Linked DNA regions of Homo sapiens. The protein of the gene in region 2 purifies or fractionates together with the protein of the main gene of each other region. This does not show direct contact. Each region holds a gene or a part of one and is shown on either strand. Other genes may lie near its edges.

Region 1 (3,538 bases), on a different chromosome or scaffold from region 2:
TGCTGTAAGCTTCCCTGTGTCCTCTCTCCCTCTCTTCCTTCCCCCTCCCCTAAAACTAAAAGGAATGTTAAAAGACCCTTTTTCTGTGACCAGCGGACCTTATCTATGCTCCCAATTCCAATTCCTTGTGAACATACTTTGTAAAGTCCTGTAAAATCCTGTCTCTTTTGCCATGCTGCTGCAAGGTCATAAAGTAGATAAAATTAGATAAAACCTAAGTTGCAATTCTGTTTTTCCTCAAAATCTAAGACATGTCACAAAATAATTTACTGCCTTTGTTTCTCTCTCTGGTAACATCTTCCCACCACATGTATTTCCCGCCTTAAAGAGATTAAAAGGCAATCACCCAAAACCAACAGTGGCTACCCTCTCCGGACCCCTTCCATGCTGTGTAAGCTTTGTACTGTCACTCTGCTCAATAAAACCTACAGTTTTTTTCTTCTCTTGGTCTGTGTCTCCATCACTCGCCGCGGGCAGCCGCCACACCCAATTCTTTGGTGTGGCTAAGGCAAGAACGTTTGGCATTACATTTAATCTCAGAACCAGCAGGACCGCTCCCCAGGTGAAGTCACAGCAGCACCAGAAACATATACACTTTATTGAATGCCATTGTAGAAAAGCGTGTGAGGATAAAGGGCTGATGCAGGACTCGGCTGTGGGGACAGGGCGAGGAATGGAAGGTGGAGTAAGTGGAATACAGGTCAAGGGCAGAGCTCCTGGCCTCTGGGGGCAGGGCGAGGAATGGAAGATAGAGTACGTGGGATACAGGTCACGGGCAGAGCTCCTGGCCTCAATGATGCCTCCTGATCTATCGCTGGGCCTGGACGACCAACACTGGGATGATGATGAGCAGAATGGTCATGAAGATGCCCAAAATCAGGGCCCAGATGTTCAGGCACTTGGCGGTGGAGGCATAGGCCTGGGCCCCGGTCACGTCGCCAACCATCTTCCTGTCCCTAGACTGGGGGAGAGGAGATGGTGAGGGGACCAGGATCCCCCAGCTGAGAGCCGCGTGCTATGGCTCCAGCTCCTCACTGTCTCCTCCCTGCCCTGAGATCAGGGACCACCTCCTCCCCTTCCTCACCCGGCTCAGACTCTCCAGGAGCCTCGGGGCTCATCCTCCTTCTGCCTTGGCCCCAGCACAGGCTGTTCTCCCCACCATGGGGTGAAGTCACCTGTGAGTTCCCTTCTCACTTTCTGGGAGAGCCTGGGTGCCAGTCTGGAAGGTGAAGGTGTAATTTCTTACTGGGCTATAGGGAGAACTGCTCTGGGCTAGTGGATAGCCGGGGACAGACTCTGAGCCAGCCAGCCAGCCTCCTGGAGCCTCCTCCTAGACCTGCACTGGGCAGATTCCCCAAGCCACACACACACACAGATCACACAGACAAAGCCACTGACGTGGGCACACACAGGACAGACGTGCACACAAACTCACAGTCACAGGGACACACAAGTCCCCACCCCAGGCAGCATGTGGGCAGGTGGAGCCCCAGGCTCACCGGCACCCCCTGGATTTCCGCCAGGGCCATACGCACCTTCACGGAGTACGCGAATGCTATGAAGCCCAGGCAGCAGGTGTTCATGAAGAGGGTGTTGAACAGGGACCAGACCACATGGTCAGGCACGGAGGTCTCGCTGCGGATGTGGATCACGGTGGACATCGGGGGAGCAGGGTTGTGGGGCACCCCCAGCATAGCCACTTCCTGCTCCTCCTTGAGCATCTCGTAGTTGGGAGGCTGGCCGCTGTTGACAGGAGAGAAGGTTTGCACAATGTGGTTCATGGTGACCAGCGGTGATCGGGTTACCGGGATGGTTCTCAGTGAGCCCTCCCTTTCCCCAGTAGTTCCGTTTTCTCAACAGTTTCCTCTTCCTGGCATTTGTCAAATGCAGAGCTGGCCAGGGCCAGATAAGGGCAGAACAAATTCCTGAGGATCAAATTACTTTAGGAGAGGGAGGAAAGAGGGGCTGAGGGCTAAGAGGGGCTTCCTCTCTAGAGCCCAAAGGAGCACAAGTCTCATCTTGTTAGTGGTGTGGGGTCCTGGAGACTTCCCCTGTGTTGGGAGTCTCCACACCCCAGGCCAGCAGCTGCAGGACCTCACTGTCCCGGTTCAGGGCTCCTGCCAGGCCTGCGCTGACGCCTCCACACTCCAGGCCCCACAACCGTTTCCCCAAAGCCCTCACCTCTGCCGGGCGCCGTGGCTCACGCCTGTAATCCCAGCACTTTGGGAGGCTGAGGTGGGAGGATCATGAGGTCAGGAGATCGAGACCATCCTGGCTAACACGGTGAAACCCCGTCTCTACTAAATATACAAAAAAAAATTAGCCGGGTGTGATGGCGGGCACCTGTAGTCCCAGCTACTTGGGAGGCTGAGGTAGGAGAATGGCGTGAACCGGGGAGGCGGAGCTTGCAGTGAGCCAAGGTTGTGCCACTGCACTCCAGCCTGGGCAACAGAGCCAGACTCCGTCTCAAAAAAAAAAAAAAGCCCTCATCTCACTTGTCACAGGCCTCATCTGCTGACATCCCTTGTCCTTTGCTGGGGTTGCAGTCCTGCTCCATGCGGGTTTGGGGGTTAAAGGTCCCCGTGTCTCCTGGTGCAGGTCAGAGGGTTGGCGGCCAATGTTGCCTGCCCCAAAGGAGCCCTCCAGGCCCAGGAAAGGGGACTCTGGGAGCACTGACAGAAGAGGGGGCTGTGGGATGCCAATAGCAGAGACCTGGACGGTGGAGTTAGAAGCCATGGCCCTTTCCCCTGGAGGCCCACCTGGGTGACGGCTCCCAGACCCGCTCCACACAGCCCAGCAGCACCCACGCTGCCCAGAGCTCTGGCTGGCTGGTCCCTGGGGCACCCTCCAGATTTCCAGGTTCTGATCATCTCTGCCTCTTCCCTGGGTCCTCACACGGGTGCCAGCTGCTTCCTGTAGTTGCCGCCTGTTTTTCCCATGAACCGGTGCTGCCTCTGAGCAGCTCCTGAGGTTACAGCCTCCCTGTGGAAACACCTTGTGTGGCCTCTGGGCTTCTTCCTGGACCTTCCTTGGCAGAGGCTATTGCAGCAAACAGAGCTGATGCTGTGCACTTGAGCTTGTCAGAGGGGACAGTGCGGGTCACAGGGGCAGGAACGTGGCCTGCAGGCCTATGTGCACCGCGACCTGCGCCCTGTTTAATTCCTGATGTGCTACATGGGCCCATTTTCCTGGGCTTATTCTCCCACCAGGCCAGACTCCGCAGAGGACATCGCTGAGGGTGGAATTTACAGAGATGGGCAGCTGCTCACCCTGCTGTAGCCTTTCACCTCAGCGGGTGGTCAGGTCCACGTCAGTATTCCAGAGTTTACATGACGGTAGCGTGCAGCCGTGTAACTGCAGAGTGATGTGTTTGAGTAACGATGACTTTGGCTCTATAAGATAAATTTTATTGATAATTTCTAAGATTCCTAAGATTTAACTTTAACAATGGCTGTGTCTACCATCGACTCACAGTGCTTCTCGACGTCGAACACCCTAAGTCCTCCTCCTTCTGCTGGCTGGGGTGAGCTCTAAGGGC
Region 2 (2,999 bases):
CTTGCAGCCGGGTGAGCCAAGGGCACTTTGCTGCCACCGCTGCATTCCCAGAGATCAAGCAGCCCGGTGCCGTGGCCAGTGAACTCAGAGGTGCTGGTGGACGGGCTAGGACTTTGGGGTTAGGCCATGGGGCTCTTTCTCTGAAGGCCACTTTCCTGACGTACTCTCTGTACATAACTCAGCGTCCGTGACTGCAGTAACAGCCAGCCCTACCCAGAGTATTTCTGAGCCATGAGGGGCCCACCAGATTGGTTCTGAATTGGATTCATGCCCAGCGCATTAGCATAGTAACTCCTTTCAGATTTTTTGGAGGGACGTTTGGAAGTGGCTTACTCTCTTCTGCCCTCTCTCCTACCTCCACCTTCTCAGATTAGCCCCATCTGAGCACATCCAGCTGCTCCTTACCCAGCATCTGGAGTACAGGACATAGCTCTCTCCTGCTACCAGTCTGTGCCTTAGAGGTCTGTTAGGCCTGCCAAACGGCGACCAGCTCCCCTGGAGCGAGGGCAGGCCCCTTCCCTCTCTTTCCCCAGACACCTACTTGAGACTCACCAATTTCTGGCCTGTTCAGGAGCCTCAGATAAGTATTTGTACTTGAGACCACCTCACACAATCTGTATGGGCCCAACCCTGATCTCAAACCTCCTTCCCTCTGCCCAAAGCTGTCCTTCCTATGGCAGGAGGGGTGGGGGTCCCAGGACGTGCCTCATACATGACTTGAGCTTGTCAGTCCACTGAGTTTCCTTCTACGAGATCAACGCGAGGGGCCTGTATCTTGAATTAAAACCTACTCGCTTCCTTTCTGCACTCTGTGTGCTCGATACAGAAGGCAGGTGTGCTGGCCTTCAGAGCCAGGTGCCCTGCTCCCCTCGTGTAAGGAAGCGCATAAGGTTGTGAAGGTCACTGACCCGAGAGCGCTGCGTGCTGACCCCACACTTCACTGGGGAGCCCTCTTGGGTAGCGCGAGACGCCTACCCGCCCAGGGCCAGGTCAGTCTCCCAGGCTCCGTGTCTTCACGGTTACCAGGGCACGCCACTCAATCTGGATGTGAGCCGGGGTGGATGAGGTTCTGAAGGGCACACCAGCACTGGGAGCGGGGGCAGTGGGGGTCTTATTCTCCAGACGCTTCCTCTATCTAGTTGTAACAAACGTCAAAGAATGTCAGGTCTTGTTTCTGCAGAGCAGACTTTGGCCTGACGGGGTCCACAGACCTGTTTCACTTGCAACACCCAGTAAATGTGTTACTGGGTGCCCTACTTTAAAAATCAGAGATTTCAAATGATTGACTTTTCCGGCTGAGTGCGGTGGCTCACGCCTGTAATCCCAGCACTTTGGGAGGCCAAGGCAGATGGATCACCTGACATCAGGAGTTCGAGACCAGCCTAGCCAACATTGCAAAACCCCATCTCTACTAAAGATACAAAAATTAGCTGGGCATGGTGGCGGGCACCTGTAATCCCAGCTACTTGGTTGGCTGAGGCAGGAGAATTACTTGAACCCAGGAGGCGGAGGTTGCAGTGAGCGAAGATCACGCCATTGCACTCCAGCCTGGGCAACAAGAACGAAACTCCATCTCAAAAAAAAAAAAAAATTATTGACTTTTCTTTAAAATCTGATTTGGCAGTGCTAGGTAGGTCCAGGAGTGCTAACACCTTCCCAGAGGTGGTACGCAGGTAGTCAGGTGCTCTCTGACTCACCCCCATCTGGCCAGATCACGGCCCCCAGCAACACGTGGGGTTGTGTCCCTCGCTGGGATACACGGAGTGCCCTTATAGGCAGGGAGTCTTATAGGCAGGGGTCTCTCCCAGGCACCTCTGGGTGTCCCTACGGCCCCTCCCAGGTGGGAGCTGAGGCTAGGTTGCAAAAAGGAGGTTGGGAGCAAGTAGGGGCTTCACAGTAACACCCAAGAAAGCACACGCACCCCAGGGTCCCACCCCAGTGCTCCCAGACACTCCCACAGATGTGGTTCTGGTCAGGCGCAGTGCAGCTGCTGCGGCTCCACCAGCCCCGGGCTTTCAGGCAGGTGGGCCTGGGAGTAGTTGAGCTTTGTCCCAGAACAGTGGGGGATGGGGCCATCATTAAAACCACAGCTCTGGCCCCAATATCCCACCGCCACCCCCACCCCGATATCCCAGCCCATGCCTCAGCAAAGCCCCCTGTGAATTCCAGCATTTTTATTGAGCGCACCACATCGGGGAGGGGCGGCAGTGGTTTCCACGGTAACCAAAGTAAGGCTTGTGCACTTGCTGAGCTTCCAGATGCGAATTAGTAAAAGCTAAATTCAAAAGTAGAATGGGCATCTCCAAAGAGTACGATAAAAACATTTTGTATCAAACTTGTGATTAAAAAAATACAAAAGTTAAACCCACAGGCAAAGAGGAAAATGACAATCCTGAGAGCTGCCCTGATAGGTGAGCCTCGAACCTCGTCTAAATCCGTAAGAAGGCAAACCCTGGGGAGGCCAGCACCCCTCGGGAGAGTGGGAGTGAACGCGGAGCCCACCTGGCTTCATCTGGGCAAAGCTTCGTAGCGCCTCTGGCAGGATGTGTGTCCAGTCCCCCGAGGGGCAGAGGCACTGCGGTGTGGACACACGAGGGCTGGGGGGCAGGGGCGGAGCCGAACCCTGCAGCCAGGCAAAAGCGGGAAAGGCCTGGTTCCTCCAGCATTTCCCAGCTTTTGGGGGCTCCCAAGAGATAGTGGTTCCCACTTGCCCAGCCACTGCTGTGGCCAAGCAGCAGGGTCGGACCTGAGCCTGTGGTCACAGCAGACTGGCTACTACTCAGCTCCAGGCCCTTATTTCCAATCCTCGGTGTCCAGGAGAGAAAGCCGGTCCCAGAGGCCCCAGGCCAGGGATGGGAGAAGGGAAGGAAGGCCAGGCCAGGCCTCTGGGACCAGCTATAGCCCTTCTGAGCTGGGGCCCAGCGGTCAGCAGAAGCCAGATGGGGACAGAGTGTGGAAGTGGCGTTACTGTACAGAGAGGCGGCAGGCAGGAGTCGCAG
Region 3 (3,655 bases), on a different chromosome or scaffold from region 2:
ATGTGCCACATCCTGGGATTAAAACCACATCCCAATAATGGGACCTTTGGTCATACTAAGTGCTTGTTAGTTGACCAGTGGTGCATTAATCTCCCAGAAGCCATCGCGATTGTTATCGGTTCACTCTTGGTGTTAACCATGCTAACATGCCTCATAATAATCATGCAGAATAGACTTTCTGTACCTCGTCCATTTTCTCGACTTCAGCTACAAGAAGATGATGATGATCCTTTAATTGGGTGACATGTGCTAGGGCTTATACAAAGTGTCTTTGATTAATCACAAAACTAAGAATACATCCAAAGAATAGTGTTGTAACTATGAAAAAGAATACTTTGAAAGACAAAGAACTTAGACTAAGCATGTTAAAATTATTACTTTGTTTTCCTTGTGTTTTGTTTCGGTGCATTTGCTAATAAGATAACGCTGACCATAGTAAAATTGTTAGTAAATCATTAGGTAACATCTTGTGGTAGGAAATCATTAGGTAACATCAATCCTAACTAGAAATACTAAAAATGGCTTTTGAGAAAAATACTTCCTCTGCTTGTATTTTGCGATGAAGATGTGATACATCTTTAAATGAAAATATACCAAAATTTAGTAGGCATGTTTTTCTAATAAATTTATATATTTGTAAAGAAAACAACAGAAATCTTTATGCAATTTGTGAATTTTGTATATTAGGGAGGAAAAGCTTCCTATATTTTTATATTTACCTTTAATTAGTTTGTATCTCAAGTACCCTCTTGAGGTAGGAAATGCTCTGTGATGGTAAATAAAATTGGAGCAGACAGAAAAGATATAGCAAATGAAGAAATATTTTAAGGAAACCTATTTGAAAAAAAAAGCAAAGACCATTTGATAAAAGCCTGAGTTGTCACCATTATGTCTTAAGCTGTTAGTCTTAAAGATTATTGTTAAAAAATTCAGAAGAAAAGAGAGACAAGTGCTCTTCTCTCTATCTATGCTTAATGCCTTTATGTAAGTTACTTAGTTGTTTGCGTGTGCCTGTGCAAGTGTGTTTGTGTGTGGTTGTGTGGACATTATGTGATTTACTATATAAGGAGGTCAGAGATGGACTGTGGCCAGGCTTCCACATTCCTGAAGCACACAGATCTCAGGAAAGGTTATTTTTGCACTTCATATTTGTTTACTTTCTCCTAACTCACAAGTTAAAATCATAACTTAATTTCATTAACTTTTATCATTTAACTCTCTCATGTTTGTTGTAACCTGAGGTATCCAAATGCTACAGAAAAATTTATGACCCAAATACAAATCTCAATTTGACTGGGACAGAATGAGGAATGGAGATTTTTGTATTTATCTTTGGGACTTTATGCCTTACTTTTTAGGCTATAGAATAGTTAAGAAATTTTAAACAAAATTTAGTATCTTTTGGTCTTTCACACCATTCATATGTTAAGTGGCAGAATAGCCTTAGTGCTACCTCCACTTTTTTCTCCAGTATTTGCATCACAGAAATAATCCCTCTGTTTAACATGTTTGTTCAGAGCCAAGGGTTTATTGTGAAGAACTGTCATCCTGCCTTTGCTAGCTGGTACCTTCTAGTAATCAAAATTAATATGAAGAAACTAGGTTGTGACAGACTAGATTATATTTAGTAGGGGAAAAATTGGGCTCAAGAACCATTCATCAGTACGTGAGACAAGCAGTTAATAGTATGATCTTTAAAGTTTTGACAATATAAAATAAACTTGGTAACTGTTTTACAAATATAAAAGTATAATAAATATGCAGCCCAGTTAAATATTGATTATCTGTGATGGTAAAGAACAACAGTGGTGCCAGTCATCAAACATACAGTGCGTCCTATTGAGTCACTGCTAATTTCTTGAGCCTGGTATTTGCTGCCTATTGTATTTGTGGTTGTTGAGAGGCATTTTCAAACCCTGTATAAATAATCCATGCTGTTGGTCATAAGTTAACTGTATTAAGAACAGTAAAATAAATAAAAACCAATAGTACTAATTTTGCTTTAAAAAAATTTCTAATTTTTTTCACATAAAACAATTATCCTAAAGGTTAATAGTTGATCGAAACAGAATAATAGAAAAATTCTACTTTAATTTCCATTAAAAAGCAAATAGCATTGACACATTTAAAGCTTTTCATTTAAAGTAGTGGATGTTTTTGAAGTATCTAAAATAGTAGCAGAATATTTTATACTTGGTCCTTGCAATGGTGTGAGTTTTAATGATTGCATTATCGTGATTGGTGGTTATGAGTTTCAGAAATCTATACTTGGCATCCAACTCATGAGTGGATTTTATATAGGATGGAACAGGAAGGTATGTCCTGTCAGTATCTTAACCCTTTCAACAAGACATTTACCTATTTGTCTTTCCTTACGTTCTCAAAATATTAACTCGAATTGTAAATTAAGCAAAAATTTAAAAAGTATATGTTGATGGGACAAGAAGAATAGTATTTATTTAATAAAACATATATTATATTGAACTATGTGTTAATTCATTTGTATCTTTTAAAAAATTATCACTGTTAAAGCCATTGACTCCTTTAGTACACTGAGAAAAATCTTATAGTAAAACTAGCCTTTCACATTAAGGTTTTGGTGTGTATTTTGTTAAATAACTAACATGCTGCTCTATTTTCTGGGTGTAGAAAGTATTTGGCTCTAGGAAACATTTACTTGTTTGTGAAAACAATACCCCAAGGTAATAGGAAAAGTTTGAGTTAAGTGTTTTTAATTCAGTCAGTGAATTCAGAATAAGTACATTCATGTATAACATAGGGACAGTTCTGCTGCTGTTATTTATATGCAATTCTTCTGGTAAATAGCAATAGAATAAAACATATTTCAATGTTTGTGTATAGGTTTTATATTATTATTCCACTAGGAATGGCATAAGAATTTATAGATAAATTCTTGTAACATTAAAGGATTAAAATGTTTTTACATTGTTTTTGGGTGTCTCCTTCTTGTGCCCATATCTGATAAGCTTTATGGATTATTGCATTTAATTCCTTTTATTTGGAGGGTTTTACTTCCTTGTTAACATATAAAGTTATAAATGAAGGACAAGGAGGAGATGGAAAATGTGTATTTATTGTTAATTCTTAAAATAGTGTGTAAATAAAATAACATCAGTGTGCTTTAAAGAAATGTGTATGTAGTGCCTTAATTTAAATTAAAATATTTTTGACTGTTACTTGAGTTCAGAATTAATGACTTTGTTCATGATTTTTAAAATGTGTGTGAATAAAATCTACCAAAAAATTCTTACTGTAATTATTAAATATAAAGTTCAGTGTCACTGGTGATTTTTACATTTGTTACCTTCTTGCAAAATATACTTACTGTGCTAGATGTTGACATGACTTAGTAATATTATAGAAGCCCACATAGGTGTTTATTAGGATTTTTTAACTCTTTAACAAAAAGTTTAAAACAGTGTGTAAGTATACAATCCAGCATAAGAACATCATTGGAAAGAAAGCCAAGATAAGTTTTATAGAACCTCCAGAGCTATGATTTATTGGCTTATGGTAGAAGAGAAGAGGTTTGAAAAAAACCGATTATAAAATAGTGGGGATGGTAGGGGAAGCATTATAATGTTTAAACTTTGTACATAGCCATAGGCATTTAATGACTTGTCCAATTGAATAT

The links.
Region 1: the proteins of CTNS (region 2) and IFITM2 fractionate together in Homo sapiens (co-fractionation; one large-scale study listed by BioGRID). This does not show direct contact.
Region 3: the proteins of CTNS (region 2) and ENPP4 fractionate together in Homo sapiens (co-fractionation; one large-scale study listed by BioGRID). This does not show direct contact.

Annotation. Positions count from the first base shown.
Region 1 is NC_000011.10:306,436-309,973, reverse strand, and holds IFITM2 (interferon-induced transmembrane protein 2), read right to left. Parts: upstream 2,159-3,538; 5' UTR 1,782-2,158; coding exon 1,536-1,781; intron 962-1,535; coding exon 809-961; 3' UTR 579-808; downstream 1-578.
Region 2 is NC_000017.11:3,660,736-3,663,734, forward strand, and holds the end of CTNS (cystinosin isoform 2 precursor), read left to right. Parts: 3' UTR 1-2,368; downstream 2,369-2,999. UniProt on the Homo sapiens protein: Cystine/H(+) symporter that mediates export of cystine, the oxidized dimer of cysteine, from lysosomes. Plays an important role in melanin synthesis by catalyzing cystine export from melanosomes, possibly by inhibiting pheomelanin synthesis.
Region 3 is NC_000006.12:46,143,398-46,147,052, forward strand, and holds the end of ENPP4 (bis(5'-adenosyl)-triphosphatase ENPP4 precursor), read left to right. Parts: coding exon 1-243; 3' UTR 244-3,291; downstream 3,292-3,655. UniProt on the Homo sapiens protein: Hydrolyzes extracellular Ap3A into AMP and ADP, and Ap4A into AMP and ATP. Ap3A and Ap4A are diadenosine polyphosphates thought to induce proliferation of vascular smooth muscle cells.